4 linked regions of the Homo sapiens genome follow. The protein of the gene in region 2 interacts with the protein of the main gene of each other region in a pairwise test. Each region holds a gene or a part of one and is shown on either strand. Other genes may lie near its edges. The genes, in order: PLEKHA2, DLG2, SERPINB13 and KDELR1.

Region 1 (7,024 bases), on a different chromosome or scaffold from region 2:
GACTAAGACAGGAGAATTGCTTGAACCTGGGAGGCGGAGGTTGCAGTGAGCCGAGATCATGCCACTGCACCCCAGCCTGGGTGACAGAGTGAGACTCCCTCTCAAAAAAAAAAGAAAGTGTTCATGCTGGGTTAGAGCTCTAGATACCCCTGTCTCTAGATGGTCCCTTCACCTTTGCTCTCATACCGTAATGAAACTATCTGGCAAGTAGCTTCCTGGCCTTCACAACACACAGCTAACAAAGCACACAGGGTATTTGTAAGAGAAGGGGCCTCTATCCAACCCACTCAGCACCCTATCTTCCCTAGCCAAACCTCCCTCGTGTTTTCTGGGTTTAGTGCAAAAATCATAATATAACAATGCTGGAATTATTTTAACAATCACTCCAGCCAACAATTTTCACATTTGCATGCTTTTTCATGTCCCTATCCACATAATTGGCCTTTTTAAAACTTAAGATGATGTCATAAGCATTTTCCATGTTGCTACATAGTCTTTATAATCGTTTCTAATGGTTGCATAACATTAATGGACTGGTTTTACTATAATTTACATAACCATTTCTCTACAATTAAATTGAAGGTTATATCCAATTTTTCACTGTTATACATAAGGCTAAAATTTGTATTTTCATGCTTTATTTCTTCTTTTACATGGAAAGAGCATAAATTCCAAGTAATAATATGAGATCACAGGCTATGATCTTTCATAATTCTTGAGTCCTTTTACAAAATTGTTTTCTAAAAAGATGTTATCTATGTTGCAACCAGCAATATATTGTTATCATCACTATAATCTTACATATATTGAATGTTCTCATTATTTTAAACTATTGGTGGTTTCAAATACATAATGACATCTAGTGAGGTTGAATGTTTTTTAAATGTTTGTTTCCTATTTCATCTACTTTCCTGAACTTCATTAAAAGCAAATCAAAAGTATGTGCATACAGAATTCCTCTCTTTCTGTCTCCCTCCCTGTCCTTCTCTCCCTCTCTCCTTCATTCTCTCTCTCCCTCTCTTCTCTGTCTCTCACAAACAAACACCAAACCAAACCAAGACGTAGCCTCATATTATTCCAGTAACTAAAAACTGTATTTCAGGCTAGGCATGGTGGCTCATGCCTGTAATCCCAGCACTTCGGGAGGCCAAGGCGGGCTGATCACTTGAGCCCAAGAGTTTGAGACCAGCCTGGGCAACATGGCAAAACCTCATCTGTACCAAAAATACAAAAATTAGCCGGGCATGGTAGTGCATGCCTGTGGTCCCAGCTACTCAGGAGGCTGAGGTAGGAGGATCACTTGAGCCCTGGAAGTGGAGGCTGCAGTGAGCCGAGATCACACCATGGCACTCCAGCCTGGGTGACAGAGTGAGACTCCATCTCAAAAAAAAAAAAAAAGTATTTTAATGAAAAGAAAAACAAAAAGTGGGAAGTTTTATATGATCCAGATTTCTAAGTAGAATATAAGTTCTTAAGTATGTACTGCGAATGAAAATAAGTATTTATGATACAAGTGAAACTTGGGGAAAGAAAGTGAGTTTGCATGGAGTCACCCATTAATCAGTGGCAGAAAGTGTGTTAAATGGCAATTAAACTGAGAGATTCCTGGCCGACACCTGCCAGTTGACTAGAAGCAGCTCATGAGAAGGAAGTCAATGGCTGCCTGCCAGAGAATGAAATGGGGGGCACTGGGAGGTATTGCAGCCCCAAATATCTCTCTACTGCCCATTCCCATGCCTTAGGTTCCACCAGTGGAGATTCAAGCCAAGAAAAAAATTGCCCCGAGGAACTGAGGCAATGGATAACTTTGCAAGGCTCATAATATACAAGAGACAGCTGGGACCCAGACCCTGAGAAAATAGCACATAGCCCAGATGGGACACAGAGGCATAGAGGGGCTGAAAGGGAAAGATCACTGCTTAAAACAGATGTTGTCTACTTGAAAAATGTTCCTAGGATTCTTATACACCCAGGACAGGACTATGAACCTTTCTGGAAAGCAATTTAGTTGTATATATATAACAAGAAAGCAAAAAATGTTCATACCCTTTGACCCAGTGATTCTACTTCTAGGATTCCATCCAAGTCAATCAACAAAGATGCAAAGAAAGATTAAAGTAAAAAGATGGCAACTGCAATAGAATTTATAGTAACAAACAACTGGTAATGTCCTGAACAACACAATGGTTAGAAAATAATTCTTTTTTTTTTTTTTGAGACAGAGTCTCGCTCTGTCGCCCAGGTTGGAGTGCAGTGGCGCCATCTCGGCTCACTGCAACCTCCGCCTCCCAGGTTCAAGCTATTCTCCTGCCTCAGCCTCCTGAGTAGCTGGGACTACAGGCGTGCACCACCACGCCCAGCTGATTTTTGTATTTTTAGTAGAGATGGGGTTTCACCATGTTGGCCAGGATGGTCTCGATCTCCTGACATCATGATCCACCCACCTTGGACTCCCAAAGTGCTGGGATTACAGGCGTGAGCCACCGCGCCTGGCCCAGAAAATAATTAAATAAACAACAGGACATACTCACAAGGAAATATTACACAATAATTCAAAAACTCTGTTTTCAGGTTATTTTTAATGAATGAGGGGAAAACTCACCACATCATAAGTTTTTTAAAAGATATGAAATGGTACATAATATGATCTCAATCATCCAAATATTATTCTTATATTCCTATATACGGTCTGTTTTAAAACCAGATATATAGTCACCAAAACAGTAAGTTATTATCTACGGGCTATGAGTGGAATTTCATTTACTTGTACATATTTTTCCAAATCTTCTACAGGGAGCATGTGTTACTTTATTTAGCAGGAGAGAAAGCTATTTAATTCCACACAGATTCCCACCCAAGTGTATAAGTTTTGAATCTGATAATAAATTTCTCAATTCTCCAGAGTCCACAAACAAACAAGGCCTTCCCTAAATTATAGCTCTCTTGGAACTTTTTGGTGTTTTAAAGACCTAAACCTAATAAATAAATGTTTCACATCTCACAATCATCCAAGAGCCAGATATCTACCTGCCCAGAGGGCTTTAGCACCCTCCAAGCTGTTTGGGTTTCTTACTTCGTATGGCAACATCCTCTGAGCGCCTTTCCCTCTTTCTCCTGCTGGTGTGGTCCCTTGCTCTCTGGTCTTAAGAAGCACCCAGGTCCTCGGGCCAACAGAATACTCAGTCCCAAGTCGATGCTGCTATTCCTCTATTCCTACAACACATGAGCTGTACCTTGAAAAGTGCTCTGGGAAAAGGAAATGGGGACCCTGACAGGAACGCCCAGTGGAGTTTTCCTTCTTGAAACTTGGGAGATAGGACTGACATTTTAAAATAAGTGTCAGGTGAGGTGGTGTGCACCTATAGTCACAACTATTGGGGAGGCTAGGGCAGGAGAATCTCTTGAGCCCAGGAGGTGGAGGTTGCAGTTGAGCCAATGTCTCACACCATTGCACTCCAGCCTGGGTGACAGGAGTGAAACCCTGTCTCAAAAATACATACATACATACATACATACATACATACATACATACATACATAAAATAAGTGGCTGGCTGGATGAGTGAAAAGATGAATAGATTAATTTTTTTTTTTTTTTGAGATATGGTCTCACTCTGTCTCCCAGTCTGGAGTACAGTGGCACAATGATGGCTCAATGCAGCCTCCACCTCCTGGGCTCATGCGATCCTCCCACCTCAGCCTCCTGAGTGGCTGGGACTACAGGCGTGCACCACCATACCCAGCTAATTTTTGTATTTTTTGTAGGTTGCCCAGGCTGGTCTCAAACTCCTAGGCTCAAGTGATCCTCTGGCCTCAGCCTCCCAAAGTGCTGGGATTATAGGCATGAGCCACTGTGCCCAGCCAGATAGATTTATTTTAAAGAAAAGCTATAAAGGTATTAAGTAATGAGAGCTGTGGTTTTCTGAATAGCCCTCTTGATTTTGAAGATGGCTAACATAATTTGGAGACAGAGGAAAGAATAGAGGGAAATATGGGAGACTCTGCCTGACTACTTTAGCATTTTTGAGATAAATAATAAGAGAAAGTGATAACAGAGATAAAGCCTTCAGTGGTATTGGCTGAAGTACAAAATTACTACAACCTCAGTTCAAAAATGAGAAAAAAATTACTCATTTTTAAAATTTAGAGATGTTTCTTTCACATTCTGTGTTAGCAGGACAAGGAATTTCTGGGATTTTGCTCCAGAAAATATTCAAAAGGTGCTTTTTGACAAGGAGTGGGGCGTGTGGTACGTACATCTTCTGTCCTGTTACCCCTACCAGGGCAGAAGCTGCAGGCAGCAGCTTCAGTAGTGACTGAGGTTCTACCAACCAGAAATGGCTCAACTGGGTAACAGGAGAAAGTTTTTTGGGAAATAACATCAGAGATCTCAAAGAGGACTGTATGAAATACAGCAGACAGGAACTGAGGTATAGAGATATGGAGCAGTCACTCACCTGTTGCTAGAATACATACGGACCATGTCAACAGAGTTCATATATGTTCAGATTTGCAGCATACATCAAGATATATTGTGAAGCCAACCAGAGCCTTCGCAATGTACAAACCCAGTAAAAACAACAGCAAAATGCAAGCATGGCTATTTGAGAACACATCCCTGAGAATGGGTCAAAGATTATAACTTAGGAAGTGTGGAAGCCTCCACTTCCTACTGCTCTAACATGGCCGCATTTTGAAACTGTCATGATAGCAGATTCCAAATAGTGTAAGGCGGGAGAATAAAGTGCGAGAGAAGGGAACGTACTGAGAACAAGTTCCCAGAGGAAGTGCAGGGTGAGGAATGCAAACATGTACAGGAATGGCGGGGGGCGGATCAGACAGGGTGCTGGCTTGACCCTGAGATAGCCCAATCCCCACTGGACCCTAGAACTTGGAGTAGAGAGCAAGAGATACTCAAGAAGGAATTTTTGAAAAAATATGGGGGGAGGGGTGTAAGGCAGGAGTAACTGGAAATTGATACCACTGCAATAAAGATGCCAAAAACAACAAAATATTTCAGACACTCATGACCTCTCTTCACAGCAGCCTCATCTACATTCAAAGAAAATGTGGTTGTTGGAGCCTGCAGGAAACAAAAGCCTGCCCGGGGCTGAAGGCTCATCAGACCATCTCCACCAGAGAGGGCACCAGTGCAGGCACGCAGCCATACTGGCTTTACAGCCTATAAAAGCTGAGATCTCCAACTTTCAGAATTGTGAAAGTTTCCCCACAATGAATTCGGTTTCACTATTGGGCTTCCTAACAACAGCTGCGAGTCCTGGAACTCTAATCTTCATTTTATAATGGACGATGTCAACCAAAGGGTACTAATACATGGGCAGTTAAGAGAATGAAAAGAAAACACCATTTCTCCTGGCCGGGCACAGTGGCTCACGCCTGAAATCCCAGCACTTTGGGAGTCCAAGGTGGGTGGATCACGAGGTCAGGAGATGGAGACCATCCTGGCTAACACAGTGAAACCCTGTCTCTGCTAAAAATACAAAAAATTAGCTGGGCGTGGTGGCATGCGCCTGTAGACCCAGCTACTTGGGAGGCTGAAGCAGGAAAATTGCTTGAACCTGTGAGGTGGAGGTTGCAGTGAGCCGAGATAGCGCCACTGCACTCCAGCATGGGCGACAGGGCGAGACTCTGTCTCAAAAAAAAAAAAAAAAAGCAAAAACACAAAAAACATAATTTCTCCAACCTACTGGCCTTTTGCTAAGTGCTGGGGGTGGGGCAGGGGAGTGGTGAGGGGGGAGCGTAAATGGCCTAGCTCTGTTCCTCTAAAGACATGTGCTTCTGTCTCTTGATTTAGGGAAGGAGGAGGGGCTGGGTGTGGTAAGGAGGATGTGCAGGTGACAATAATCAGTATGAGTATTTAAAAAAAATTTTTTTTTTTTAGAGGCAGGGTCTCGCTCTGGTGCCCAGGCTGGAGTGCAGTGGTGCGATCACAGCTCACTATAACCTCAAACTCCTGAGTTCAAAAAATCCTCCTGCTATAGCCTCCCGAGTAGCTGGGACTACAGGCGCACACTACTACAGCTAGCTAATTTTTCAATTTTTTGTAGAGATGGGGTCTCGCTATGTTCCCCAGGCTGGTCTTAAACTCTTAGCCTCAAGTGATCCCCCCCACCTCAGCCTCCCAAAGCCCTGGGATTACAGAGATGAGCCACGGCATCCAGCCAATATGAGTATTTTTGAGGGAACTTTTGCAAGAAGATGACCATTCAAAAGGGTGTGCTGATTTCAGTTACCCATCCCATCCATGCAGTGGAGTGAAGGGAAAGAGCATGAGTCTTGAGCCAGACAGACCTGGATTCAAACGCAGAAAAGTTGCTTAAGTCTTCAGGGTCTATTTCCTAATCTGCAAAATGGAGATAATTGCTTTACCTACTTCAAAGGCTGCTGTGAGGATTAAATGAAATAATGTGTGAAAAGTGCTGGACACCCAGACATTGGGTAAATATTGTTGTTGTTAAACTGCATGTGTGGGTGCCTAACAAGGAGTACATGGTCATCATTACTACTGCAAAGTTGCTTAACACTGGGCAGGCAGCTGCTGCATGCGCACCTCCATCCCTCTAACTCCAGTGAGCAAATGTCAATGAAAAAGCTGCGACTCTGGGATTCCTCTCACGAGGAAAGGCATCAGCTTCCCTCACTCTTCCCTCTACTCCAAGAAACACCACATTTTACATCTCTAAAAATTCTCCAGGAGGTTTAAAACAAAAAGTCCAGGCAATGTGCTGACTCCTTCTTGGCCAGGCTACCCTGAGAGTTAACAGAAACCTAGACATGCTCGTCAGTTTCCAAGGCAAGCTGCCTCTTGATCCAGCCATGGGCAATCATACCAGCAGAGAGCTGCTTTGCAAGGGGCCAGCCAAATTTGAGTCCCAGCCTTCGCACTTTAACTGCAGTGCTTCTCAAGAGCATAAGGACAAGAGGACCCAGCTTCCCATCCTCTTCATCTCAGCTGACCAGGCACTGTGGGCAAAAGGCACACCACAGGGCCAAAGCCCCCAAGC
Region 2 (7,024 bases):
TGATTATTCACCAGTCAGAACATTTCAAGTTAACAACATGAACAAAGAGGAAAATAGGTGCAATTATCCAGGACAGTTTGACTAGAACCAGTATTCATTTAGTTGATAGAACTGAACTTTTGAGAGGGAGGAAAATAGATGCAACTTCTTAGTGTATTCTTAGATAGACATCAAAATTACTTAATTCTTTAGCGGTACATTGAGAAAGGTCATGGCAAATCAAATCAACCCAACAAATATCTTCTCCTATGATACTGGTTCTCTGTGTTCACAGGAAATAGGATCCCTCTGTAGGCAGATTGTGTAGCCACACCCAGGTGCCTTCCTATGGTACCCTCTCTTGAACATTCTTCTCTTTTCCATGCCCCTGAAGTTACCAGCAAAAAGATAATAGCAGCATCTACACCTCCTCTAAGCTAGAACTTCTGCGAGCAAAAGGCTGGGCAGCCCTTCTCATCTATCTTCTCTTCTACCATGAGGATGTCAAGTTTTCAGAGAGAGAGAAAAAAAATAACTTCCTCTAACAAAATAATTCAGGAATGCTATCCCCTTGGTTTACAACTAAAGTAGTAAACCTGCCTTAATAAAATCAAGGTTGTGTATTGGGGCCTCAGATAGTGAGTCAAAGACAAAGCCCTCTTCCTACTTTTTCCAAGTCAGTGAGAATACTTTATTGAAATTAGAACAAAGATTAATGACATTGCTCTAAGGTGATTCTCTGCTTGGATGTTTTAAATTATTAAATCAAAATTTACAATTGCAATCAAGAAAGAGTAATGACCAAAAAAAAAAAAAAATGCAGTTTGCAACCTAGAAACCTTCTTCAGGGGAGGTGTAAGAAGATTGGTGAACATACTCTTTCTGCTACAAATCTCACAGACTGCACACTGGTTCCATATAAATTGTCATTGTACTGGCCGGCTTCTATAAACTTGTGCTCTTGGATATCTTTCTCCATTTGTTCTCTGGAAATGACAAAGTGATAGTCTCTGCCATCCACCTCGTAGTCTCGCTTTGGCCTCGTAGTATCTTTATAAAACAAAAAATGATAAAATTAAGGTGCATTTATACCCATAAACTTGCTTTACACCTATATTCTCCACCACATCCTCAACATTGATATGTAGAAATATGTAGTATGAAGAAATATGACATAGTAACAGGTACTAGTCTTACCCTCCCACCATAAGCAACTAAAAAACTGGACAAAATATATGAAACAACTGTTTTCAGATATCAGACAACAGGAAGTACAGGGCTGTAATCTTTGAGAAAAGAGAAACATATGAGAGAGCATTCACCCCACCTCTCTACCTAGAGGCCATTTCCAAATGGAGAGTTTAGACATCACATGGTGCTAGAAGACACGGGAGTTGAGTCAGAACCCATGGAGATCCCAGAAAGGCCACATTTTAAAAGGTTACTCTAGACTTACTCTACACCCATCTTCACAAAGTCTAAAACCATGTCACAAATGGAAGAAGCTGCTGTGTCAGTAAATTATCACCTGTCAGAACAAAAACTTAACATTCTATAAAGGACCATAAAATTCAGACTCTCAACATATATAAAATAAGATAATCACAGTTAGATAGGACTAAAAATCAGCAACTCTAACCATTTCACCTAAATTTTTTGGTAAGAAGAGAAGGGGAAAGCAATCTAGCAATATGAATAAAAGCTGTTAAAATATTTTTAATCTTTGACTCACTTATTTTTTCCTAGAAATATGTTTTTAAAAATGATCAAAACTTCAGATACAGATTTATCCTTAAAGATATTCATTATATTATTTTATAAGTAATAATTATAACACAATTACGATGATATTTTTGTCACAATTCATAATAGTGAAAAATAGGGAAAAACCAAAATGTTCATAAAGAATGATTAATTGGGATATAATAATCATTTGAAATAGTTATATAAAATTTTAAATAAGCAAAAAAATCATCACAGAGAAAAAATGCATGCATAGAAAGAATAGATGGAAATGTACAAAAATATTAACAATGATGTTATCTCTGGGTATTGTGTGGGATTTTGTATACTTCTAATTTTCTCGTTTAACTTTCTTTTTAGTGTTTTTGAAGTTTTGTACAATGAACATCTATTGACTATCACAAAATGGTTCTATTAATTCAAAAAAGAGAGAATATGCAAGGTGAAAGGGAAAGCAGAAAGAATGCTTAAGTACCTTCTGTTTTCTTTCTCTCAAAAGTGGAGGAGCAAGCTGGAAGCTTGCTGTAAACGACCTGGAGTTTCATTTGCTCCTTCCTGTCTGAAGACTTTCTCAGGATATGTTCTATGGCAGGATCTCTTCCCAGAGCCCTTGCTGGGAATTGTTTCATGAGATACAGCAATCATCCTAGTCTTTTGGCCATGTACTGGACACATACAATTCCTGCTATTCTTAAGTATCTCATGTAAAATTTGCAGTACTGGAATGTTAGAGACACTTGAAAGCATCAGGCTTAAAACACATAGAATGGAAGAGAAATATTTGTTGGTATCAGATGTAAGAGCTCCATTATCTAATAAATTAAAATTTCCTGATGGACCTGTCTACATACGTAGAAGGTCTGCATGCATTTCTGTTTGACAGAGTCGGGGTGTAGACGGGGTGAATGAGTGGAGAAAGTATGGTAGGGGTGGGGAGGGGAAGAGGCAGAGCAGTTAGAATCTAATAAGGCTACAATCAGAGGGACCAGAAGCCTGATGATAATCTATAATGAGAAGAAAGTAGTTTAAAGTCTGTAATGGCCTAGAGGTCAAATTGAAGTGTTACACATTTTCTTGTCTTCACCCTCCCTAAACCTGGGACTGTCAACATGGGAAAGCCTATTGGGTTTTGGGATTGACATATGGCCCTAAGTCATCCTGAGAGGATTTTAATATATGGCTTTGTTTCCGATCTCTTCCATCCTATAAAAAATAATGTTTCAGTGGCATTTTGATCAATCTATGAAAACATACTGATGCCTATCATAAATCCTATGCTGTTTTAAATGGTTGGGGGCCACAAAAATTCATCCTGCCTTTTAAGGGGCTACAATCAGTTTAGAGAAAACATTATTATTTTTATTAAATACAGAATGACACACGGCAGCATAAATGAAAAGTGTTAGGCAAATAAATTAAATAAGGCACTCAGCTAATCGGAAATGGTTGGTATTTGAATTACTGGAGAGACTACTGGAGGATGGAATTACATTTTACCATCTCATAAAGAAATCCAAGCTCTTTTTGTTTTTCCTAGAGGAAAGAAAAATGACACTTACGAGGCACACAGGAGCCAAATTTATCAGGGAATTCAGATATCAAGTCGTCATTGATCCGATCCTTCATGGGCCCCAGGATAATCACCGGCCGGGTGTAGTTTACTGCAGAATGGGAAAGGAAGATGTAGGTAAAGAGAAAGAGTTGGAAACAACTGCAAAACTGTCCTGCAAGGGTGATTCTTAATTGCCAGACAGTAAGAGATGCTAAGGGCATTACTTCACTGGATAAATTACTCATACAGCCTTGCATAGGGAAATTGATGTTTAACACTCAGGAGATTGGCAGTGCCTACTTTCTGGAATCTACTAGCAGGGAAAGGCAATTGCAGTATCTGTTGATGAAAAGAAACATTTGGAGGAGTTTTGCTTACTCTCTGGCTCTGCCTACATAATGTCAAAACAACTGAATTTAGTCAACTGAGTGGGAGAAAAAAGAATCCAAACCAGCTGTTTGGCTATTGTTTAGATATGACTATAAAAAGTAATTGTTAGTAGTAATAACATCTTATGTTTTCATGATTTCTTTTCCCCAGATCAAAATACTCTCTATACTTTGCTACAGTTTCTAGATTTCCTTGTATCTGGGATTAGAAGGAACCTGAGAGTTCATTGGGTACAAGTCCCCATCTGATGCTTGAATTCTCTCTGCAGTATCCTTGTCAGTAGCAATTAGCCTCTGTATAAATGCCTCCAGGAAAAAGCAGCAGCTTACAGATAGCCTACATCTTAGGCAGATCTGCTAGAAAGTCATTCTCAATACTGAGCTGACATCAGTCTCTCAGGAGAATTTATTCACCAGTCTCGTAGCTAGTGCTCTTTAGGTAATTTGAATGTGTTCCTTCCCATTGAGGACCACTCATCTGGAGGGCTGCATCCTTCTCTTAGGTGCTATTAGTGCCCATACTCAGCAGGAAGTTGTCTGTTTGGTGATAGGGTCAAAGAGAGAGAAAGTGAGAGACAGCGTAAGAGTAAGGTACGGTCTCAAGACAACAGAGCATTAAGCCGAGTTTATTCTCCTTAGTCCTTCACTCTTTCCCTCCTTCAATGATGTCACCTCTTATGGCCCAGAAATTAGGAATGAAAGCGTGCTGGGAAACTTACTTTCCTGCCTTGTAACAGGCTCATAGGAAAGAATGAGGTCTTCTTGTCCTCCTGAGAAGAGAAGGAAAGAAAACCACAGTGAACTAACAGTCATATATTACAGAGACAAGCCCTGCTCTGAAACACAGGAAACAGACACAGCTCAGAGTTAATTCTCCTTGCTCTTTCTCCTTGAACCATTCAAAAATAACTTCATCCTCATAAAACTCTTTAGCACCATTTTAGTATCAGATTTTCACAGTCATAACTCTAAGTAATAACTGGTTGCTAGCTATTTGCTGCAGGGCAATGACCTGTGAGACTTCTTTCTGTCTGGCATTGAGAATGGAATGCCATGGCCTCTACACCAAGCATTACTACTTAAAAGGAAGCCATTTAGTTCAAGGAAAGGGTCCAATTCAATAGATGGCTGCTACATAATCAGAATTGCTGTACCTTTTATTTCATCTTCTATTTTATTTCCCCAAGAAGCACACTGTTCAAAAGCAAGTATATGCTTATTTCATTTATGATATAAAAACTTCATCAGGACACTCAGGGTTTTACTCTAATATTAATTCGTCAGGAAAATGCTGTGGGTCAATTAATGAAGATCAAAAATTGAGGTGTGTCCTACATCATTGGTTATAATTGCTGCTAAACTGTGCGTTGAAACTTCAGATAGAGAACTAAGGAAGACACAGTAGTAAAATGTCAGCCCCTCCAATGTCATCTGCTACAAGCCTTCTGACTCAGGGTGGACCTCAAGTCAACAAATAACCATAGAAAGTAAATTGGTTTTTGCCATTTATTTTTTCAATCATCTATTTTATATAATTGATGAATTAATTGGTCAGAGGATTAGCTCAATTTCACCTGCAAACCCGGAAGTGTCTGCATTTTTTTTTGCATTGACTAACCTTTGGAACAGCAATAGGTTAGGGCTGTTGAAAAGAACTTTCTGTCTACTAGAAGAAATAGTGGAGCAGAAGTGGAATATGAGGTAACTTCTGAAACCAAAGGGCAATTCACCTTTGCTGTATATCCTCACCACCCACCCCTGAAGCACATTCATAGTCTATCAATGCCAGGTTTTCCTCCTTCAACAGCCACAGCACCACAGAAAGAGAGGTAATTTCATAAGAAGAGTTAATATGATCGACTGTTTTGATAATGAGACTGATTTGGGGAAATTGAGCAATATGTGGGTATAGCTGCGAAGTTGGATGACTTCCTTGGAGGCTGGGTAGCTGGAATGGGATGGGGATAGGAGTGTCTTACTTTTTCAAGTGTGAGAAATGGCCTCAGGCTGAAGTCATATCTTATCTCAGTCCCAAGGAGGGCCTGGGCTCAGAATGGCGCCACCATGCCAAGCTACTTCTTAAGGGTACAGAGAGTGGACCTTGATGCTCCTCCTAAGTGGTATGTACCCATGGCCACCCCAGAAGTGTTCAGGGGACTCTGCCACATTGGTCAGGGGTTTGGTCAGTGAGGAGTCAGATTCACTATTTCTTGTACTCAGGAAAAGAATGATTCCCTTTGAATAAACTACTGAAATGTACAGAGCCTAGGCCAAAAAACATGAAGGTGATTGATTACTAACCCCCAGTTATCTAAAGCCTGAGCGATGTAGAGGGTATACGCATTCAAGGTTTTAGTTTAGTATTACTTCATCAGGAAAATGCTGTGGGTCAATTAAAGAAGTGTAAAAATTCTTGGGGAGAAAGTATAGTTTTAATGATAGAAGCATCGTAGACTAACATTGCAATTTTAGACTATAACTTTACAGGGGAAATCTTCAACAATTAATGTGCAAGGGAAGAATTCTGACCATGGGATAACAAAAGCTTTAAATGTCAGGTAACTCTTGGACCTCCTTATTAGGCTGGGAGTTTCATAAAGGCGAGAACTGAGTTTTATTCATCACCATGTCTCCAGTGCCCCATTGAGTGCTTAACATAAAGAAAGATGTCAACAAATTTGCATTCTGATTTCAGTCATGGGAAACAGGATGAGTGATGAGGCCAACGGTAGGTTCTATTTTGTGTTTCTGTCAATATGGTCATTTAACTTTGGAAAGCATCGTTTTCTCTAAATAAATAGAGCACATCAAGTTCCCATAAAAATCTCTTCCCAATGGCTTTGCAAATCATTCTGATGGAACGTTCTAAAGGCAAATCTTTAATAAGATATTTGATGTCAGTGTGTATGATTGCGATTCAGACAACTAGGGCAAAGCATAGCTTTGATTAATTTTGTTCAAGAGTTCTCTATCTCTGTCTATCCATCACTTCTTGGTTTACTTTTCTATGAAAGGCACTGGTTCTGGTTCTGGTTCAGAGCAGTAGTGTTGGTAGACAGCAATGGCAGCATCCCTTATGTCCGGGCCACCCCAATTCTCAAGACCTTGTGGCAATCAGGTACTGTGTAATACCCAGGAAGCCTGTGGGGAAACCCGTGGAGGTGGGCATGACATAATTGCTGTGAATTCAGCATCTTAAACTAATTTTTACTTCCATGTCCAAGAATGAAAAGCCCTATGGGTAATGAGGAAGAGACAAAGGGAAAGAGAAAAAGCCACTGTGATGAAGGAGAGAAAATTCATGTCTTTGTGGCACTTTGCGGGCCTTGAGGGGCTTTCATACCCACTGGCTTTTATGTCT
Region 3 (7,095 bases), on a different chromosome or scaffold from region 2:
AACGTCTGATCCTAGCCCCGACCTAATGGGCTTATTCCTTTCCCATATTTGAGTAGACTCTCCTTTGGATGGCGAATACAGGAACACTGGAGCTGGAAAAGACCTCAGGAAGTCATTGGGCCTGTAATAATTTTTTAAATACAACATCAGCACGGGGTTAAAAATATGAGTGGAGTTTAGCAATAATATCACCTACTGCTACTACCACCACCACCACTGGCTCAGTTGCCAGATGCCCCTACTGCGGACTTTACAGAGGCTGAAAGAAGATAAATAACTTGCCCAAAGTAGCATCGCTCTTAAGTGACTGAGCCAGGACTTGGACCTAAGTCTGTTTAACTCCAAAACCCATCCACTCTGCTATGGGAACTTTTCTGTCTATTAGCCTTTACCAGTTCTATCATAGCGGTATTGTCCATTACACCTAAGGTCTCTTCTCAATATTAAGGGGTTATTATTATTGTATAATCCTTACAACAATATTTGTCTATGGTGATTATTATTGCTTAATAGTAAAGCAACAATATTGCTTTCATGCCTTTCTCAGTCCTTTTCCCCAGAGACCCCACACCTAAAATGCAACTCTACTGAAGTTTGTAAAACACATCTCCCCACCTCTTTTCCTTCAGCCTTTATTCTTACCACCTCTTTTTCTTCAGCCTTTATTCTTGAGCTCTTCGTCTCTTTTTCAGAGTGAAACACCTGGAAGAGATAGAAAATATTACTGTGGTGCTCAGAGAAGAGAAAACCTCACACAGAATCAGTCAGGGGAGAGTGGACGCTTCTGAAAGAAACCTCGGTGGTATATGAGGTGACATTATCTCCTTGCAAAATCAGAAAAAGGTCTGCGTTTACCTCTGATTTTTCGTGTGTGTGTGTGTGTGTGTGTGTGTGTGTGTGTGTGTGATGGAGTTTTGCTCTTTTGGCCAGGTTGGAGTGAAGTGGCATGATCTTGGCTCACTGAAACCTCTGTTCCTGGATTCAAGCGATTCTTCTGCCTCAGCCTTCCGAGTAGCTGGGATTATAAGCACCTGCCACCACACCCAGCTAAGCTCATGCCTGTAATCCCAGCACTTTGGGAGGCCAAGGCGTGTGGATCACCTGAGGTCAGGAGTTCAAGACTAGCCTGGCCAACATGGTGAATCCCCTTCTTTACTAAAAATACCTCTAATTTTTTTCTAAGGAACTCGTATTGGCTTATGTGTTCCTGTGTTCATCTTGGATGTGTCATTTTTACCCTTGTGGGGATTATGTCACTTTTTCCATAAGTACTTGGACAAGGTTACGCAACCAGTCTCTACTCAAAAAAATTTCAAGCATCTGGGAGCAGGTGGCGAGATGGTATTTGGAAAAGGAAGAGGGCTTTCCTGATAGACCTGAAATTGCTCCTTGTCTTGAAAGTCTCTGTTTCCTGGTCCACAGGTCAAGAAGAGCGTATTTTTAAGATAATGCAAGAGGGCTGACAACCCCCCCGCCAAATGAATTTGTGCATAGGAAACAAGGAAGCCCCCTGACTGCGCCCAACCTCCTCCAACTGGGAAGCGGTGGCTCCTCGGGTCCCCAGGAGGACCATGCCAATTGCAGTCAAGATGCCCACAGGGGAAAAGAAGATGTTGCCATCATTTGTTTTCTTCAGCTCTTTGAAAAGATCAAACCCAAGTCGAGTGCTGACGGCGCCAAGTGAATCCATGATGATTTTAGCGAGACCTAGAATAGCAAGAACAACAATCAAAACTGAACATTTGAATTACTCTGTGTCAGGGGAATCCTTTCTGCTTCTATTCCTCTTCTTGCATCGATCCGGAATACAGGGATTTCCACCCTTTTGGTGAAAGGTCGCTGCTGCCTGCTTCTCACGTCCTCTCTTGGCCTTCTCTTGCTGGGAGACATCCATCAATCTACTGGAGTCTTCCGTCATCCGGTGGTGCTCAGTTCTTATTTCCCCGCGGAGCAGGGTTAATGTTTTAATGGCTTTATTCTCTTGCTCTCTGTCTGACCCTGCCTGTCTCTGCCTCTCCACAGCCTCCTCTTCATGGAAGCTTCCCCAGGTAGACCCAGCCCTTGTCCAGGCGACACCAGTTTGTCCAGATGTGGGGCCCATGATAAGGCAGGGGGGTAGGCACAAGAATCTCCACGGGCCTCAAGTTCAAACAGTGCTCTCAGATCCAACCTTAGCAATAATTAAGCCGAGACTTGAATCCTTATCTGATACTATTTCTCAATTGATTCAAAATTCAGCCCAGAGAGTGACAGGATTGATTAAATCTCTTAAACCCCTTTCCCTAACTGCATACAAACTTGACTCTGGGCTGAATTTTTCTGAAGCAGAAACCACATATCTCTGGTCATGAATTATTAGGTGGAGATGAAAGGGTTTTCTTTTTTATACTTTTCTGTATTGTTTTAGGCTTGTACATGAGCTTGCATTACTTTTGTCATTTCACAAAAATAGTTTTTAAAGAGCAATTAATATTTGCCAAAAATAAATAGGTAGAACTGTTTTTATGTTTGCTTCATTACCAACTACTTTAAAACTAGTAAGTAAAGGCTTTAGGAGGAATCCTAAAACAAGAATAAGATTAATGAAAAATAAAGTTTTTTAAAGCCCACATACTTTGGGGCCTTTTGCCCTCAAGGGCTCATCCCCGCTAAGGCATCCCACATCTGATATCAAAGCTTTCATTTCAACCTCAGGTTTCCTTGCAGAGATCCTTTACAGGTTAACTCAGAAATAAAATGGATTAATTTACTGTCAAAGAAGATACATTGTCATGGCCATGTTGGAACTGAATTAAATAAAACTACCTCCAGAAAGTCTATGCAAAATAAAAGTAATTCTTTCAAACAACAAACATCATTGTTCTCAAAATACAGAGGTCTTAAATTGGAGCCAAAATAAGAACTTACCTCGGGTTTTTGGAGAGACGGTGGTGGCTGGGCAACGAACTAGGAAGCATAAGTCAATTAAGTAGCTGGGATCCTTAATTTATAGTTCTCCACATCTGCTTCAGCAGTGGTTTTCCACCTTGCGTGCACCTTAAAATCTCCTTGGAACTTTAAAAAAAATCTATGCCCAAGCCCCACCCCAGACCAACTGAGTCAGCATCTCTCGAGTGGAAACCAGGCATCAGAATTTTTATCACCGCAGGTGATTACAATGTACAGCCAACGCTGGGAACCAAAGGTGTATAGCCTGATGAACACATACATTAAATGCATACTTTACTTACCACAGATGGACAGAGCTGTGTCCTGACAAGTCATTCTCTGTAACAGAGTTATTTTTGCATTTGCATTATTTAGGAGTGCCAAATGCCAGGAAGAAAATGAAAGAAAACTATCTTGCTACAAAGGAACAAGAAAAAAGAACAAGAAAAGTTTGGGTAGGCAGCCACACACAAGCGAGCATGCGCACACACACACACGCACACACACATACACACACACACCTATTATTCTCAAGTATTCCATCCATTAATTGTAAAATATCTCATTTTAATTCATTCAATAAACATTTATCAAGTCTATTATGTACCAGGTACTGTGTCTAATGCCAATAATTCATAAGCACTCAATATCCTCACTGATTTCAGGAAAACAACACTACCAAAAAAACTCAATAGGAAATTACACCCCCAGATTCCAGTTTTTCCTGCCAACCCTGGAGCATTTCTACTGGCCCTACCAGTTCATTAAAAGAAACTGTGCTTGGATTAGTCTTAGCTTTAATCTTCAGTAAAGGGCGTGGAGATTTGCCATCGTTGCTGGGCAGCAGCTCCTAGAAGGGTGTCTTAGCTCTTCCTTCTGCCTAGAGGAACACCTCCCTAGATACGCAGGCTCGAAGGGCATATGGGTCATGTGTGTTCCAATCTCCATACTCACAATTTACTTTTTTCAAAATATTTTGATTGCTGCTCTTTAAGCAAACTCAAAGCCACATTTAGTTGATTTGCTTTTTAATAGGCACTGAGAATCTTGCAAATTGAGTAAGGTTTAGAAAGAATTAACACTTAGTGAACCCTGGATGCCAGTGAAATGGAAATGTTAGTTTTTTAAAATGGCATAAAATCTCTGAGTCGGCCATAATGCTTTATGTTTTAATATCCCTATCCATTTATATCTTCTTATTTCTTTCTCTGTGGCCCCTAGACTTCCTGTTCTATTGCCCAGCCATTTCCACAGGCCTTCTGCTTTTTGCTAAAGCTTTTGCTCTACCACCTGCTTTCACCGGGAAACCTGGCATGTCCTGAGGACTACTACATCCCATAGTCTTTTCTGGGAACGGCCACTCATATCTTGGGAAAGCAAAGTCACCATTCCTATTCTCCCTCGCACTCCCTCTTCTTCCAAGTCTTTCTTCCTTCAGTCACCTTCAATGCTCCCCTTTGGAAACTTAGACCATCACGCTGTGCTGCTCTGTCCCCAACCACAGGTCCCTCCGTGACTCTGCATATGGTCTTCCTGTCCACCCCAGCTGCTACCGCCACCCTGTACCACTTCACCATTCCTGTTGCCAGCGCCTCTCACTTCTCGGACCTTCACCTTCCCTCTTTTATAGTGGCCCACTCACACCAGGAACTGCTCTTGTTTAACACTCAAGCACCTCCATCTGGTGACAGATTCTCATCCTTATTCTCTCTAAACCTAATTTTCAACGCCTTCCCAACCTCTTATCACAGGACTCCTCCCTGTTCTGTTTTATCCATCTCTTCTTTCTAGGATCAAAACTGCCCCAGAGGTGGAATATATGTTGATGATTAAGAACCATTTAAAAAATGATTTCTATGCTAACAAGTGAGGAGAAGAAAGTTATCCCCTGAAGCAGAGTATTGATAGGTTCCCAACCCTGTTCCATAGCTCATAGTTTTGTTCCAACTTCTGTGTGTCTGTTACTGATACTGACTTGTAATATTTTTCTTCTCCAAGCATGTAATCTCGTAGTGGATGCTGCCGATGTTCCCACCAGATTTCCTTAACCTACCAGCATGCCTGTTACCCAGTTGTTGTTTTCCCTTATAATTCACAGATGCCCTTTTCTCGGCTAAAAGAGAGCTGCCTACGGGGGAAGCCAGGTACCACTCCATCCCCCGTGCCAGGGCACACCTCAGGCATGACTCACTGGCATAAGGGCATAAAAAGACAGCCCCTGGCTGGGCGCGGTGGCTCACGTTTGTAATCCCAGCACTTAAGGAGGCAAGGCGGGTGGATCACCTAAGGTCAAGAGTTCAAGACCAGCCTGACCAACATGGTGAAACCCTGTCTCTACTGAAAATACAAAAATTAGCCGGGCGTGGTGGCACATGTCTGTAATCCCAGTTACTCAGGAGGGTGGGGCAAGAGAATCGCTGGAACCCAGGAGGTGGGGTTTGGAGTGAGCTGAGATCACGCCATTGCACTCCAGCCTGGGCAGCAAGAGCGAAACTCCACCTCAAAAAAAAAAAAAAAAGAAAAAGAAAAAAAAAGACAGCTGCCTGAGTAAGACTAACTTTATAGTGCCACTTCTCCTCCAGACCTCCCCCACAAGATTAGACTGAAGCCAGTCTTTAGCAGAAACCACATGATTAACATTTCCCCTTGCCTTGTTCTGCTTCTTTCAAACAAGCATGCTCCCCATCACGCTTTTCCCAAAAATTACCTGAAAAATCCCTGTCTTTAGCTCTGCTTCTAGGGTGCCTCACCTATGACAAAAGTGTTGTGATATCTAGCCCAAGCCCTCATTATTTTTGCTTTCCAAAAATTTATTTGCAACCTTGCATATATTCTCTTTAGATAAAATTTTTAATTAGTTTATCAAGACCTATGAAAAACACTTTTGGGGTTTAGATCGGGACTCTTTAGAATTAATATGTTAAATGGGAAAATTTTTCATCTTTACATAATGAGCAAGCGGTATGATCATCTTACATGTCCTTCAATAGTTAATAGAAAGAAATCACGGGGAGAGAGACAAAGGAGAGAGAGAACCAGTTTTCTCTTTGTGATGAAAAACAAAACAAGCATGTTCACCGCCGCTGCTTCCACTCAAAATTGAACCAGAGACCCTGACAAGTGCAATAAAGCAATTAATTAACTGATGAATTAGATAATTATTTAAAAGGTAAGATAATTTAAAAAGAAAAATAGAATCATTCACAGAGGAATTGAGGTAAATGTTATGAGAATTAAAAAGTGAGTTTAGCAAGATTGCTGACTACAAGGTCAATATAAAAACTCAAGTGTTTTTAATATACTAGCAACACACAGTTAGAAACATTTTTAATATATTATTTAAAAGAGTATAAAAAAGCTATGTGAGGCTGGGCATGGTGGCTCATACCTGTAATCCAGCACTTTGGGAGGCCGAGGCTGGCAGATCAGCTGGGTTCAGGAGTTAGAGACCAGTCTGGCCAACATAGCAAAACCCCGTCTCTACTGAAAATACAAAAATTAGCTGGACGTGATGGCATGCACCTGTAATCCCAGCTACTCGGGAGGCTGAGGCAGGAGAATTGCATGAACCAAAGAAGTGGAGGTTGCAGTGAGCCGAGATAGCACCACTGCACTCCAGCCAGGGCGACAGAGCCAGACTCCATCTCAAAAATAATAATAATAATAAGGTATGTGAGGTAATACTATGTTAATTAGCTAGATTTGGTCATTATGCAATGTTCTATACTTCAAAACACCTTGTATGTGATAAATACATATAATTTTATGTCAATTGTTTTAAGATAATGAAAAAAGCATCACGTAACTAGTAAATATGAAAGATGTTTAAGACTCCATATAGAAAAAGATTAAACATAATTTAGAGAAATTAAGAAGACTGAGTAAATAGAGGGGTATATTTTATTTGTGATTTAAAAGACTCAATATTGTAAGGATGTCAATTTTCTCAAAATTAATCACTGCAATCTCAATCAAAATCTCAGGAAGCTCATTTTTTCAAAAAATTGGCCAGCTGATTCCAAATTTATATGAAATAGCCAAGGGCTAACAACAGCCATGACACTGTTGAAAGAGAAGGAGGAAGAGATAATACCTGCTCTGTCAGATAGCAAGGTTTATTATTAATTGTCAGAATGGTTTTTGGCAAAGGATAGATCAGAACAGAAG
Region 4 (7,477 bases), on a different chromosome or scaffold from region 2:
ACCCAGGAGTCCTTCTGGCAGCCCCTTCCTCCCCCAGGCCTTGGGAGTCTGGGCATTCGGTCCTGTTCTTTCCCAGGACCCAGGAGGCCAGGCCCCTCCTGCCCCAAGACTCTGGAACTCCAGTGCCCAGCCTCCTCTCCCTGCAGGAACCAAGAGTCCAGGTCCCCAGCTCCCCTCTTCCCCCAAGGACCCAGGAGTCCGGGTTCCGGCTCCTGTCCTCCCTTAAGGATCCCCTTTTGGTTTCAAACCCTATCCTTCCCAACATCCTGGGTGCCCCCCCACCGAGCTCTGGCCTCCCTAGTCACCCCACTTAGATCCTGTACATAGCACAGCCTGTCCCCAAGCGGGGAGGAGGAGGAGGGTGCCAGAAATTCCTAGGGTGTCCCTGTCTTCATTGCCCCCCACAGCATCCAACAGAGAAGAGAGGAGCGGCCACTTCGATCAACAGCTCCCCCCACAACCTCGAGTTGTGCTGCAGACGGCATCCCGTTTCCTCCCCCCTCACCTCCCAACACACACACACAACATCGGTCTCTCCCCACCCGAATCCTGATGCTTGGAAGAGGCTGGAAGGGTGTTCCAGAACCTTGAGGAAGGGGTGGGAGCTTGGGGCGAGGGGTGCTGGGGGCCTGGATGCCCTCAAGGTCCTTGGCGGGGGTATTAATAGCAGACTCATAGCTCTGACATGGGAGGGGAGAGCGAGAGGAGAGAGGGAGAGGACCGGCTCGCGATGGGGGGACTGATGCAGGGAGGGGGGTACAGGGAGAAGGTGAGATAGAGAGATGGAGGCACAGGGATATGGGGCATCAGGTATGTGGGGATGGGGAGAGGGAGCCAAGTGTCAGAGAAATGGGGGCGTGAAAGGTCTGAGGTGTAGGGACTCAGGAAAAAGGGGCTCAGAGAGGGAGAGAGAGAGGGTGGAGGAGAGTCCCTGAGGGACAGGGGAGCTAGGTGGGGGTCAAGACCCCTGCCCACCGTTCAAACCCCCTCCCTCCACGAGGCTTCTTGCCAACTTCCTCTGTCCTAGATTTGGGGGTCCACATTCCCACCACCATCCCTGCATCCCCTGTCCCCGCCTTACCTTTTCATGACCCTGTTCTGTTGGGGGGATGGCGGGGGGGCCAGGACCGGAACCCGGCGTCCAGCGACCCCAAGATTCCGAGGAGGGCTCAGAGAGCCGATGTCGGGGGGCAGGCCCCGGGGCGGCGGCAGTGGTGGTGGCGGCAGCAGCGGCAGCCCGGACCTCCTGTCTGTCCCTGGCTCCGTCTCTCCTTCCTCTTCCTTGGTCCTGTCCTGCCCTGTCTCTCCCCCAAGGTTGCGGCCACCTGGACTAGGCGAGGACGTGGCTACACATGTTGCTCTGGAAGTTGGGCCCCGGACATTGCAGAGGCTGTCGGGGTGTCCTCTTGCCGCCCCGACCCCGTGGGGATCCCCCCTCCGCCCACCCGGGGTGCCCCCCTCTGCCGCTTCAGCCCCGGCTCCTCCCCCCTTTCCATGTGTCCAGTCCCGCCTCTCCCTGGCTCACTCGCACCCCCGCTTTGTGCCCTCAGCCCCCCCACCCCCCCTTCCAGCGTCTGTGTCTATCTGTCTGTCTGGGTCACCTCTGAAGCTAGTGGCTGGTGTGTGCGTGTGAGGAGCGGGAGATTGCCTGCTTGGGGAACTGCTTGCCCCTTCCTCGCTTGGCCACCTCTAGACCCCCCCTTGACTCCCCCACTCTCAAACACAGGCAGAAACACACATACACTCACGCACACACGCACGATCTCACTTCCCTGGGATTCCCCCTCAACACCCCCAGAGCTTGAGGAGGGACACACACACAGACACACACACACAGAGTGGGGGGTCTAATGGGGGCCAGGCTGCCACTGCTGATAGGGGCTGTTTGGACAGACAGGAGGACACAGGCAGCCGGGGACGCCCAGACGCCTGGCCGGACGCAGGCAGGAGGCACAGAACCCAGGTACACACCATCCATCTGGGTTTGGGGGGGCCGGGGGGAAGGAGCGGGAGCCCCACGACACCCAGGCAGGCAGCTCAGGGTCGGTACAGACAGACAGACCCCTCCCTCCCTCCGCCGCCGCAGCGCTTACAGACACACCCCCCCTCCACCAGCCAGCCCCAGACACCCGGACACACAGATCCTCACCGGGCAGATGGCAGACGCTCGAGAGACCCCTGGGGGCCGGGCCGACCTACCCAGGCAACACCCCCAGCAGGCACCGGTGGCCGAGGGAGGCTGCGGGAGGCTGCGGGCGAGGGTGGCGGCGGCGGCCGCGGCTTGGAGGAGCTGGAGCGGGAGGGACTCACACACTCGCTGTGTTCTCGCACACACACACTCACTCGGGATGCGATTAACATTCAGTCCCCGTCTGCCACTGCCGGGAGACCCACAGCCCCCCCTCCTGGCCTCCCTGGGGACCCCTTCTCCTGCCAGGCTTGGGGAGGGGGCCGCCCCCCACCCCTAGCTACCAGCCTCTGCCTTCCTCCTGGGACAAGGGAGTGAGGGGCTGAAAATAAAAAGGGAGGAAGAAGTCAGGCTGGGGACAGGCAGGCAGGGACTCAGAACCCGGTATGGAGACACCAGCTTCAGAGCTAGACTCCAGGGCTGGGGGTTGCTGCCCTCTGCCCCCGCCCTGCCTTGAGGCTCTGGAAACAGGAGGCCTTTCCCTGACTTCAGTGTTCGCCACACTAAGACCCAAGCTGTGGCTTTTATTGCCCCAGAAGGCCAGGCCTGAAAACCAGGTCTCGACCCTGGTCCCAGGAGTCCCACCCCCCAGCCCCTCCTCCCTCAGACCCAGGAGTCCCCTTCTCTACTGGGACCCAGGAATTTGGGGACCGCCTCCAAGTCGGAGTCTCTTTTAAGGACTCAGTCATCCCGACTCTCCCCCGTACAAGCCACCCTCAGGGACCCAAGACTCGTGGATGTCACCCTTGGGCACCCCGTCCTTCCAGCCCTCTGAAGAAATCAACACGCCTGCACCCCTTCTTTTATTGAGGGACCCTGGCCTCCATCATCTGTGGGTACCCCATCATCCGGAAGGGAAGCCACGTCTGTCCCCTCATAGATGCAGGAGTCCAGACCACAGGCTGTTCCCCGGGGGTCCCACACCCAGATGCCCAGCATTCCCCTCCTGCTAGAGGGCTGGGCCCGGCACTTTTATAAAGCCACCCGTGGGGCTCTGGGGTAGAGCGTGGGGCAGGACACCGGGGCCTCTGAGGGTGGAAGAGGGTGTGTGTGTGTGGGCAGGGCAGAAACTCTGGAGCAGGGGGGAAGCCAGGGCCAGGGGCTCCTGAGGTAGTTTGGGTCAGAGTTTTGGCCTTGAGCCTCCTGGGTGAGGCTCCTGTTTCCTTCATCCTCAAGGTCTGGGAGAACAGGGTGAGGTGCACATTCCTGAAAAAGAAGAGAATCAGGGCCTAAATCTGTGGGTCGTAAAGGGAGAAACTGTAGATCTAGATTCTTAAGGTTAGGATGTTTGATCCATAAGATGGTGGGGGTGGGACCCTAAGTTCCAAGGAACAGCGTCCTAGGAGGGAAAAGGGCTGGGGCCCTGAACTCCTGGGTCTGAGGGAGGAGGGGCTGGGGCCCTGGACCCCTGGGTCTGAGGGAGGAGGGGCTGGGGCCCTGGACCCCTGGGTCTGAGGGAGGAGGGGCTGGGGCCCTGGACCCCTGGGTCTGAGGGAGGAGGGGCTGGGGATCTGGACTCCTGGGTCTGAGGGAGGAGGTGCTGGGGGTCTGGACTCCTGGGTCTGAGGGAGGAAGGGCTGGGGGCCTGGACTCCTGGATCTGGGGGAGGAGGGTCTGGGGGCCTGGAGTCCTGGGTCTGAGGGAGGAGGCTGGGGGCCTGGACTCCTGGGTCTGAGGGAGGAGGCTGGGGGCCTGGACTCCTGGGTCTGAGCGAGGAGGAGCTGGGCCTGGACTCCTGGATCTGAGGGAGGAGGGGCTGGGGGTCTGGACTTCTGGGTCTGAGGGAGGAGAGGCTGGGGGTCTGGACTCCTGGGTCTGAGGGAGGAGGGGCTGGGGACCCAGACTTCTGGGTTTGACGAACGGGCTGGGGCCTTGAGTCCTGGGTCTAGGGGAGGAAGTAGGTGGGGTATCTTTCTTGTCTTCTGGGGGATTGGAGTTAGAGTGCCTGAAAGCTGCAAAAGCTAGCAGCTGAGCCTCCGGGTCCCTGCAGGATTTTTCAAGCTCAGAGGGCAGTCTCTACATCCCTGCAAGGGCTGAGGCTGGTGTACTGGACTGCGTCTCTTCCAGAGACACAGACTGCCTGGGCGAACCGGTGCTGGATTTGGCACTTTCCGAACCCTGCGACCCTCCCAAGTTCCTATGGGGCAGCTTTGGGGGTGCGTTTAGCGCCGCCACGGCAAAGCAGGAGGTGGGCGATAGGGGGCGCCGGGGATCCAGGCCCCGCCCTCGGGGGCGGAGCCTCTCCTCCCGGACTCCTCCCCCTCTCGCTCTCCTCCCTCTTCCCGGCTCCAGCTCCGCCGCCAGCTCCAGCCTTTGCTCCCCCTCCCAAAGTCCCCTCCCCGGAGCGGAGCGCACCTAGGGTCCCTCTTCCGTCCCCCCAGCCCAGCTACCCGTTCAGACCAGCAGCCTCGGGGGGCACCCCCCCGCCAGCCTGCCTCCCTCCCGCTCAGCCCTGCCAGGGTTCCCCAGCCATGAATCTCTTCCGATTCCTGGGAGACCTCTCCCACCTCCTCGCCATCATCTTGCTACTGCTCAAAATCTGGAAGTCCCGCTCGTGCGCCGGTGAGAGGCCCACCAGGGCTGGCGAAGGAGAGAGATTGCGGGCGGGGGTTGGGGGACGTCGCAGGACTCAGGAAGGGTTTGGGGGCACTAGGGGCACAGGTTCCACCCCCACTGCTTGCTGGGGATCTCTCTTCTAGGTTCTGGGTCTCCAGGGGATCAGCTCCCTTCCCCAGACTGGCGGGGGTGCATACAGTTTCATGTGAATGGCTTTAGGCCCCCAATTCAGCCACCCCCAGCCCCAATCTGGGCAGCCCGAGGGTTCATGGACCGGGAACAGGGAACCATGGCAGGCGGGGAGGTGGCTGTGAGTTGGTGACGTGGACCGTGGCGGCCAGGAAGGGAACGGGAGGGAGGTGACCGGATCCGGGGCCTGAGGTCAGGGAAGGTCCTCCCTAGGCCTCACCTCAGGTCCAGACTGCGGGAGGACCCTGAGGGGCCAGGGGTAGCCATGAGGCCTAGTCTGGGACGGAGCCTCGGGCTGGAGTAGCTTCGGGGGCCTGGGCTGCCCCCTGGCTGTGGTCCGTGGGAAAGGGCCCTGCTCAGGCGGGGCGGGCTGGGGAGGCCTCCGGGGACAGCTGCACTCCAGAGCTGCCTCCAGGCTGGTCCCGGGCGCCCTGCCTTAGTTTATTGCCCATGCAGCCCACCCCCAGCTTCCTCTCTCCTTCTGTCTGTCTGTCTGTCTGTCTGTCTCTCTCTCTCTCTCTGTCTCTCTCTCTCTCTCTTTCTCTGTCTCTGGACCACAGGAATTTCAGGGAAGAGCCAGGTCCTGTTTGCTGTGGTGTTCACTGCCCGATATCTGGACCTCTTCACCAACTACATCTCACTCTACAACACGTGTATGAAGGTAGAGGCTCCACCCCACCTCTCTGGCCCCCACTGAGGCAGAGGAGCCGGGTGTGGGTCCCAGACTCCTAGGTCTGAGGGAGGAGGGGCTGGGGGCCTGGACTCCTGGGTCTGAGGGAGGAGGGGCCGGGGGCCTGGACTCTTGGGTCTGAGGGAAGAAGGGACTGAGGCCTGGACTCCTGGGTCTGAGGGAGGAGGGGTTGGGGGTCTGGACTCCTGGGTCTGAGGGAGGAGGGGCCGGGGGCCTGGACTTTTGGGTCTGAGGGAGGAAGGGACTGGGGCCTGGACTCCTGGGTCTGAGGGAGGAGGGGCTGGGCCTGGACTCTTGGGTCTGAGGGAGGAGGGGCTGGGCCTGGACTCCTGGATCTGAGGGAGGAGGGAATGGGGCCCTGGACTCCTGGGTCTGAGGGAGGAGGGGCTGGGGGCCTGGACTCCAGGGTCTGAGGGAGGAGGGGTTGGGGGCCTGGACTCCTGGGTCTGAGGGAGGAGGGGCTGGGGGCTTGGACTCCTGGATCTGAGGGAGGAGGGGTTGGGGGCCTGGACTCCTGGGTCTGAGGGAGGAGGGGCTGGGGGCTTGGACTCCTGGGTCTGAGGGAGGAGGGGTTGGGGGTCTGGACTCCTGCGTCTGAGGGAGGGGCCTGGACTCCGGGCTCTGAGCCTACTGGGGCACAGGCCTGTGAGTTGAGGCCCCTTCTCATCATCCCCCTCCTCAGGTGGTCTACATAGCCTGCTCCTTCACCACGGTCTGGTTGATTTATAGCAAGTTCAAAGCTACTTACGATGGGAACCATGACACGTTCAGAGTGGAGTTCCTGGTCGTTCCCACAGCCATTCTGGCGTTCCTGGTCAATCATGACTTCACCCCTCTGGAGGTAGGCGCCTTGCTGTGACTCCTTATTTGGGGGGATGGTTGTGGCAGAGTAGCTATGACAGGAGACCCTCTCACAGGCTTCCTTCTGCAGGGTGTGCCCAAACTGCCTTATTTTAGGATGCATAAGTTCAGTGCATGGGCTCTGGGGTCAGAGGAAATTAACACAACAGCAGCAAGACTCGCTATGTGTCAGTCACTACCCTAAGCATTTCACCTACTTACTTTTCTCAGCAGCCCCACTTTACAGATGAGGAAACTGAGGCTTAGGGATTCTTTTTTTTCTGGAGACAAAGTCTCGCTCTGTTGCCCAGACTGGAGTGCAGTGGCATGATCTCGGCTCACTGCAACCCCCGCCTCCCAGGTTCAAGCAATTATCCTACCTCAGCCTCCCGAGTAGTTGGGAAGACAGGTGCACATCACCATGCTCTGCTAATTTTTGTATTTTTAGTCCAGACAGGGTTTCACATGTTGACCAGGCTGGTCTTGAACTCCTGGGCTCAAATAATCTGCCTGTCTTGGCCTCCCAAAGTGCTGGGATTACAGGCGTGAGCCACCATTCCTGGCCCAGCCTTCTTGAATTTGAATTCCAAATCTGCTAGTTTCTTTTTTCTTTCTTTCTTTCCTTCTTTCTTTCTTTCTTTCCTTTCTTCCTTTCTTCCTTCCTTTCTTTCTTCCTTCCTTCCTTTCTTTCTTCCTTTCCTTCTTCCTTTCCTCCTTCCTTTCTTCCTTTCCTCCTTCCTTCCTTCCTTTCTTTCTCTTTCTTTCCTTTCTTTCTTTCTTCCTTTCTTTCCTTTCTTTCTTCTTTCCTTCCTTTCTTCCTTTCTTCCTTTTCTTCCTTTTCTTCCTTTCTTTCTTTTTTCCTTTCTCTTTCGACAAAGTCTCGCTCGGTTGCCCAGACTGGAGGCAGTGGCATGATTCTGGCTCACTGCAACCTCCACCTCCCAGGTTCAAGCGATTCTCCTGCCTCAGCCTCCCGAGTAGCTGAGATTGCAGATGCCCACCACCAAGCCAGG

What was found.
Region 1: the proteins of DLG2 (region 2) and PLEKHA2 interact in binary tests that used the Homo sapiens proteins (3 or more experiments, as listed by UniProt).
Region 3: the proteins of DLG2 (region 2) and SERPINB13 interact in binary tests that used the Homo sapiens proteins (3 or more experiments, as listed by UniProt).
Region 4: the proteins of DLG2 (region 2) and KDELR1 interact in binary tests that used the Homo sapiens proteins (3 or more experiments, as listed by UniProt).

Annotation. Positions count from the first base shown.
Region 1 is NC_000008.11:38,904,334-38,911,357, reverse strand, and holds part of PLEKHA2 (pleckstrin homology domain-containing family A member 2), read right to left. Parts: intron 1-7,024. UniProt on the Homo sapiens protein: Binds specifically to phosphatidylinositol 3,4-diphosphate (PtdIns3,4P2), but not to other phosphoinositides. May recruit other proteins to the plasma membrane.
Region 2 is NC_000011.10:83,468,345-83,475,368, forward strand, and holds part of DLG2 (disks large homolog 2), read right to left. Parts: intron 4,434-7,024; coding exon 4,383-4,433; intron 3,384-4,382; coding exon 3,282-3,383; intron 1,030-3,281; coding exon 857-1,029; intron 1-856. UniProt on the Homo sapiens protein: Required for perception of chronic pain through NMDA receptor signaling. Regulates surface expression of NMDA receptors in dorsal horn neurons of the spinal cord.
Region 3 is NC_000018.10:63,583,263-63,590,357, reverse strand, and holds the start of SERPINB13 (serpin B13), read right to left. Parts: upstream 3,016-7,095; 5' UTR 2,908-3,015; intron 1,708-2,907; 5' UTR 1,691-1,707; coding exon 1,526-1,690; intron 703-1,525; coding exon 643-702; coding exon of another isoform or gene 616-642; intron 1-615. UniProt on the Homo sapiens protein: May play a role in the proliferation or differentiation of keratinocytes.
Region 4 is NC_000019.10:48,388,541-48,396,017, reverse strand, and holds the start of KDELR1 (ER lumen protein-retaining receptor 1), read left to right. Parts: upstream 1-4,466; 5' UTR 4,467-4,659; coding exon 4,660-4,750; intron 4,751-5,493; coding exon 5,494-5,594; intron 5,595-6,306; coding exon 6,307-6,465; intron 6,466-7,477. UniProt on the Homo sapiens protein: Receptor for the C-terminal sequence motif K-D-E-L that is present on endoplasmic reticulum resident proteins and that mediates their recycling from the Golgi back to the endoplasmic reticulum.